2 linked regions of the Homo sapiens genome follow. The protein of the gene in region 2 interacts with the protein of the main gene of each other region in a pairwise test. Each region holds a gene or a part of one and is shown on either strand. Other genes may lie near its edges. The genes, in order: CDC27 and DCPS.

Evidence for each region.
Region 1: the proteins of DCPS (region 2) and CDC27 interact in a two-hybrid assay, tested with the Homo sapiens proteins (one large-scale study listed by BioGRID and IntAct).

Annotation. Positions count from the first base shown.
Region 1 is NC_000017.11:47,179,295-47,183,113, forward strand, and holds part of CDC27 (cell division cycle protein 27 homolog), read right to left. Parts: intron 2,344-3,819; coding exon 2,268-2,343; intron 1-2,267. UniProt on the Homo sapiens protein: Component of the anaphase promoting complex/cyclosome (APC/C), a cell cycle-regulated E3 ubiquitin ligase that controls progression through mitosis and the G1 phase of the cell cycle.
Region 2 is NC_000011.10:126,342,059-126,345,877, reverse strand, and holds part of DCPS (m7GpppX diphosphatase), read right to left. Parts: exon of another isoform or gene 3,556-3,819; intron 2,572-3,555; coding exon 2,461-2,571; intron 532-2,460; coding exon 265-531; 3' UTR 1-264. UniProt on the Homo sapiens protein: Decapping scavenger enzyme that catalyzes the cleavage of a residual cap structure following the degradation of mRNAs by the 3'->5' exosome-mediated mRNA decay pathway.

The sequences.
Region 1 (3,819 bases), on a different chromosome or scaffold from region 2:
GCAAACAGGTTACATCTAGCATATCAACTGATATTGTCCACCAAGAAAACTGTTGCCAAGAATTCTGAGGTTGGTTCAGTGGGAATGAGTACTGTAATGGATTAGTGATGCCTACTATGGTTGCAAATCAGAGAAGTGGTAATTGCTACTCTTGGGAAAGCGGAATCAGACAGATTACTAGTTACCGCCTGTGGACATTAGTCTCAGTTCTTCATCCAGAAAATGGCAATAGCAATGTCTATTTGATAGGATTATTGAAGATTAAATTAGTAACTAATATTAAATACTTAGAGTACCTAGTATACAGTAAGAAATCAATAAGTGATAGAATTATTGTTATTATTACTGAGCCAGGATAGTATCTGCTCTTACTACACTTAATTCTAAAATCTTTCCTCATATAAATATGGTTAAACCGAATGGTGAGGTTCTATATTGAAAGAAACTAACATTTACTGAGCAACTTTCCAAGTGCCAAGCATTGTATCAGGTACATAAATAACGTGGATTAAACAGCTTTATGTGGACTAATCTGGGAATCTTGCCACCAATTCTATGGGAAAATCTAATTGAATTCTAAACCATGAATTTACAATTTTTAAGAGCCTAACTATAATAAACTAGAAACTGCCTATTCTTTAATAATAAACAAAAACAAAAAGGAAATACTAGAAATAGAAGACAGTGGCCGAGTACAGTGGCTCACATCTGTAACTCCAGCTCTTTGGGAGGCTGAGGCAGGAGGATCACTTCAGTCCAGGAGTTCAAGGCTGCAGTGAGCTATGATTGTGCCACTGTACTCTAGCCTGGGCGACAGAGTGAGATTCTGACTCAACAAAAATTTTTAAAAATACAGCAAAATATGGGGCCTGCCTAGGTATCAATGAAAATATTTTTAAATAGATTATTCACAATAAACATCACTTTTGCATAAGTGAATGGAGTAGATTAATCTATTGTATAATCTTCTTTCTAAGCCTTCCATTCCTTCTCACCTTTCTAATCTTTTCATTGGGACCTTAAACTCCTGCTGCCCAGATCTTCCTCACTTTTCTCACTGAATTCCCATTCTCCACCGAGGAGACAGCTCTCTCACATGGACAGTAATCACCTTACATCCCACTATCTCAGAGTCAAGGTAAGGCTGGTTTCCACTTAACTTCTCAAAACTACTTCCAAGCATTGCTCTTTGTCCTTTTGTGAAATTTCCTGCCCCTGAGGTTTAGGCCTTGTTCTCACAACTCTCAGCTACTAAACCCATACTGTTTGACTTGTAAATTCCATTTAAAAGTACATAACCCAAGGAAATGACTCAAAAAAAAAAAAAAGCTGTACACAATGATCTATATCAGCATCTTAGAAAGGGAATTATAATAATGACAGAAACAAAACATACATTATCAGTGGTGTTTATTAAGCATTGATTACCAAGCCAGATGGCTGTGCTAAGGGCTTTAAATAAACCATCTCATTGAATTTTTAATTCTAAGGGGCAATGATTATTTTATAGATGAAATATCTGAATTTTCAGATATTAAAGTAACTCGTCCAAGGTTATAAAACTGTACATTTAAGTGACAGGTTAGGATTTGTTCCAAGGCTATAGAGTCTAAATCCATGTTCTTCACCATAGAATACAGACTCTTTTCTTAAAAAAAAAAAAAAAAAAAAAAAATACATGGCATGGTGGCCCATGAGTATAATCCCAGCACTTTGGGAGGCCAAGGCAGGTGGATCACCTAAGCTCAGGAATTTGAGACCAGCCTGGGCAACATAGCAAAACCCTATCTCTACCAAAAAAAAAAAAAAAATTAGCCAGGCGTGGTGGTCCGTGCCTGCGGTCCCAGCTACTTGGGAGGCTGATGTGGGAGGATCGCTTGAGCCTGGGAGGTAGAGGTTGCAGTGAGCTGAGATGGTCCCACTGTACTCCAACATGGGTGACAGAGTGAGACCCTGTTTCAAAAAAAAAAAAAAAAAAAAAAAAAAAAAAAACCCAAAACAACAAAAACCCTGGGGGAAAAAAAAACCTAAAGATTGAAAAATGATTAAGTAAATCATAGCATATAAACCTGAATCAATTCTACATAGTTATTAAAAGTAGTATGTAAGGGAACTACACAGAAAAAAAGTAAAGATTTTATGAACTAGTGTCAATCAGAAAAACAACAAGATGATGATAGCTAGAATCTTGTTACAGTGATAAAAAGTTATGGAATTTCATATATGTTATTCATTTATCATTCTACAGCAATGAATAGATTTCAAACCTTCTGCATAAAGGCGTTCTGCGAGGAAAACCGCATCTCGGTAAGCATAGTGGTTTAGTGCTTGCCATATAGCAGCCTGCAAATGGAGGAAAAAGAACATAAATATACATACATACAGACTTTCAAGGTAACTACTAGCACACAGCCTTACATCAAATACTGAAATTAATATCCCTAATTTAAGTGATAAAACCCCAATGCCCACAGAGCAAACTCCAGAGTGTGCCGGGCAAGGCTCTTCACAGTATGGCTCCTAACATATCTGAATTTCCTCACTCAACTCTCTATGGACTTTTAGGCTTCTGTGCCTTTGTACACCCTTTTCCTCCATTGGGCAATGTGGGCTCCCCTCACCAGTCTCCCCTTATAAACTGCTCGTCCCTAAAGATCCAGCTTAAATAACATCTGCCCCATAAAGCTTTCCTGGCTGATGTCAAGCCATTTCTTTTTTAAGATACCTCTTCTAGTAGAGCACTCATAACATGGTTATTTGTTAACAGGACTGCCAACCCTACTAAACTACAGACTTTTAGCAGCAGTGGTTCTCAACCACTTTATGTGATATACATGACAGAGATATTAAAATGTATGTCATCCTCCCACAAAAACTTCCCTATCTATTACCTTTAATGCCACTCAATTCTCATCCACTCCAGGAAGCATATTGGAATGCAAATGAGTAAAGTTATCATAGGAATAACTTTTAATTTTTTGAATATATGTTTTCTCTTTTAGAATTACAAAACATATAACCTAAAGTATATATGAGATAGAAGGACATTTTAAGTAACAATAACCAAAGACATTTAGGCCCATGTACTCACCACCCAGCTTAAGAAATAAAATATCTCTGAAACTCCCTGTGTGTTCCTTGTTGATACCAAAACCTCTCCCTGCCCCAAAGAGGAAACCACCACACTGAATTTTCTTGACCTTTCTCTTGGTTTTCTTCACAATTTTATACATTTGTACATATCATCTCTAAGCAGTATAACATTTACTTTTTCCTGTTTTTGAACTTTAAATAAATACAATCATATTGTATACATTCTGCTACGATTTGCTTTTGAAATCCAATGTTTTGAAAATTCATTCTTGATGTGTGTAGCTAGAGTTCATTTGTTTTCATTGCTGAATAAATAATATTTCCATTGTATAAACATATCAAAATCCAAAATGTATTTTATCTATTTTACAGCATGTGGACATTTGGGTTATTTCTAGGGTGTTTTTTTGTTTTGTTTTGTTTTTCCAATTATAACAATGCTGCAACAGTCTTAGATTCATCTCCTGGGGTATATATTTAAGAATCTCTCCAGCCTATCACGGTGGTGTGAGCCTTTAGTCCCAGCGACTCAGAAGGCTGAGCTGGGAAGACTGCTTGAGTCCAGGAGTTCAAGGCTATGATCATACCTGTGAATAGCTGCTGGAGTGCAATAGGAGCAAGACTCCCATCAAAAAAACACAAAAAAGAATCTCTCCAAATTAGGATATATATTTAGGAATAAAATTACTGGGTTGTTGAATATGCATATGTTCATCTTTACTAGGT
Region 2 (3,819 bases):
GCTCCCACCTGTCAGTTGAAACCACCACCTGGAGACTTTCCACCATTCTCAAGGCCTTCCCACAGGTTCTACCCACCCACTGTCCCCCACCATCTGTCTGCCTCCCAGGCCACGCTGTCCACACTGAGTGAGCCCGCTAGTTTATTCAATACTAGGAATAAGCCGGTATAAAATACATTTTTAGAAAATTCACTTGGAGATAAAAAATCTTGTCCCCACTCCTCCCCCAATCCCACACATCTGTGCTCTTCTGCCTGAGTTAATTCAGCTTTGCTGAGCCTCCTGCAAGAGCTTGAGCAGGGGGTCGTCAGCCCTGAGGGCGAAGGTGAGCGTGCGCTGCTGGTAGTGCCTAGGGTCACACTCCAAGTTCTCGATCACCTCAGCCAGCAGGTGGGCCCGCTCCACGCCTGAGCCGGGGGCCTCGAAGCCCAGGGCGGTGAAGTGCACATGCAGGTGGTAGTAGGAGGGCAGGTAGTGCAGGTATACTCGCAGATGGTCTCCCTTCATCCGGTAGCGCTGCAGGATGGCCTCCTGATGAGACAGGGGCAGGCAGGTCAGGAGTCACCGTGCTGCCTGAGGCCCGGCGCCATGTCCCCACCTAGACCCTCCTCCCATCTGAATCCTGGATTGGCCTGGGACAGCTCACAAAAACCCTCCAAACAGCTCTCTACCTGCTGTCTGCTTCAGCTTCCTCTGTCTTCTAGTCTAGGAAATCCACAAGTGCAGGTGACAGCAGCAAAGCTGAGACTCTCCCAAAAGAAGTGGGGAGCGGCCTCAATCAGCATTCCCCACCCCAACGTGGAAAAAACACTGGCTTCCTCAAACAGTTGCTGCTGGGAATCTTGGAAGGCCCAGTGTCTACAGACAGGCCCCAGATTCCCAAGACTATGGGGACTTTCATGATTTAGAAGCATTTCATCAGTCATGAAGTGGATGGGAGGAAGCCTCATTCTCTCTTTTAGCATAGCACAGGGTGGAGCTTGGAAACAATGAAGTTGGGGATGGGGCTATGCTGAGAACTTGGTGAAAGAGCAGGGACTGTGGAAGGGGTATGGGAGGGGCTGCTCCCACACAGACCTGGCGAAGTCTCAGCGGGCTCCTTGCAGAAGAGGAAAGCATTGACTTTGGCCCTGGCTCCCTTTGCCCACCTCCACCTTGCTCAGGGGTGGGTCTTTTTCTACCAACCTCCACCTTCAGGAGGCTGTGAGGCATAGAATTAAGCGGAGACTCTCATCTCCATTGTGGGCAAATCCCTGAGGTGGTCAGAGGTGAAGAGAAAAGTACTAGGGCCTCAGTGGGCTCAGTATATACCCCAGAACTGTGTTCTGCATTTGGAGCTCACCCCAGGAATCCCTGCAGCGGGGCGAGACCAGGGCCAAGGCACCCGAGGGGCTTCCTGGAGTAAGTGAGGTCTGTCTGCCAGGGTGGAGCTGTCTGAGCTGCTAGGGCAGGTCAAAGTGTTGGCCTGGCATCTCCCCAAGAGAAAGACACCATTCTTTGCCATTTGTAATATCCAGAGACTGCTTCAGGATCTGAACAAGTCACCCCACAAAGATAAAGGCAGCCAAGGGGTGGTGCCGTGGGTGAGCAGGAGGGAAGATAGATCGGGGCCCAGCAGCAGGGGAAGCTGGGTATGGGCAGAGCCTTGCCTCCAGGTCTGCATTAACACCTCGAAGCATCACTGGTCAAAAAGGGGCAAACCTCTCTCCTGGCTGGGCATCGTTGTGACTGCTAGCTCTGGCGTGTTAGGCAGAGCATCACATTTCAGAGTGGAAAAAAGACTCAGACCCAGCCCCTTAGGATGGTGGATTTAGAAGGGATCCATCTAGATAATGTGGTTTAGGGAGGTGAAGTGACCTGCCCCAGGCCACTCAGCTGGTTAGGGTCCAAATGTCAGGCCAGGACCACACCCAAGATTCTAGACACTCTTCCCCCATCTCCCCGTGCTCCTGGGCTCTGTTTAGAGCCCCGATAATTTCATTCAATTCAACAAATATCCCAGAGAGAAAGTATCCCAGAACACCAGGTGCTACAGAATTCAGCCTGTCTTCAATCTAGACAAGGAGACACACGTGTACACACATATCGAAGTCATGTGCCCATACTCCCAAGAAACTCTGGCATGATGTGGTTGTCATGGTTGTCATGAGAGAGACAGGTGATCCTGGAGTAGGAGGGGCCAGGACTTAAGGACCAGAGTCTATGGGGTGAGGGGTGGAAGTGCATCCCAGATGGAGAAAGGCCGAGGAAGGCGTGTGAGGGTGAGGAAAGGTGGCAGGACCAGGGACAAAGAGCCCTGCTCTTCAACCTCAAGAGCCTAATGGGGTCCCCAAGACTGGCATCCAGAGAGAAGTCTCTCCAAGATGGACTCTGGGAAAGGTGAGGAAAGGGGCCCAGGAACACACTGGAATCTGAGTCTAATTTCTCTGAGCTTCCACGTGGTTTGGTGAAGCCACTCACCTGCCCCTGGTGGAGGATGTTCCTGAGCAGCGGCAAGTGCTCCGGAGTAAGGTCGCGTAGGGATCTGATGCCCCGGCGATGGCAGATGGCGATCAAGTACAAGTCATCGAGCTGCGTAGAGAGCAAGGGGAGACCAGGCTCAGCAGGGAACAGACCTGGGGAGGCTGCCAACCCTGGAGTTCTCACGTAAGCCAGGAAGCACCCACCCCTGAGGCCTACAGCACCAGGAGAAACCCCGCAGGGCATCTGCATACCCCGGGCGTGTGGGATGGTCTTAAGGAGCAGGCCTACTGTGTACGCTTCTTGCTAGAGAATACCATGTGAGAGTCCTTTTTTTTTTTTTTTTTTTTGACAGAGTCTCGCTCTGTCGCCCAGGCTGGAGTGCAGTGGCGCAATCTTGGCTCACTGCAACCTCCGCCTCCTGGGTTCAAGCGATTCTTCTGCCTCAGCCTCCCAAGTAGCTGGGACTACAGGTGCGTGCCACCATGCTCTTTATATTTTTAGTAGAGATGGGGTTTCACCATATTGGCCAGGCTGGTCTCAAACTCCTGACTTCATGATCCGCCTGCCTCGGCCTCCCAAAGTGCTGGGATTACAGGCGTGAGCCACCGCGCCCAGCAGAGAGTTCTATATGCTCACTCCCCAGAGCTGTCGGGGCAGGGAGCCAGGAGGTTCAAGAAAGAGCAAGGGCAACTCTCTCCCTCCGAGAGTTTACAGTCTTATCGCATGTATGCAAGTAGCTCTACTGTAAGACACAAAATAATCCCAGTGCAGGAGGAAGGAAAGACTCTAGCTACCTGGATGAACCCAGGAAGGCCTCCTGGAAGAGAAGGCAGAGGATCAGGTCTAGAAAAAAGGTAGAATTTGGAGAAAGGGTATTCAGGTAGAGGAAACAGAGCAAAGACTCGGAGGCAAGAATGTATAGGGCATAGAATGTATACGGAAGGGGAGAGGAAGCAACTTGATTTGTTTGGAGTCAAGGCCCATGAAGGGGTGGAGTGGGGTCTGAAGGCTGAGAAGGGAGCCAAGGGCCAGCTCAGCAGCACACACAACACCAGGGCAGTTAGCTTGTTTCTCTCTTCCCCTATCGCACAGGATACCTTCCTGCTGTCCTTCCTGAGCACAACCTGGCTGAAAACCTGGAGGTCACAACAGTACAAAGAATCAAAGTCAAGATCTTGTGCCAGAGAGCAAATGAACTCTTCCTCTTGCTGAGAAAACCCACCCTGCTCACCTAAACCCTGGCCTTGCCTGGTAATTCCATCCATGCGCCTGGAAGGCCCCAGACATCAAGGCTCTGAGGGGCCAGGCACGGGGAGAACCCAGCAGTGCCCTGCCCTGCAGTCTGAGCTACCAGAT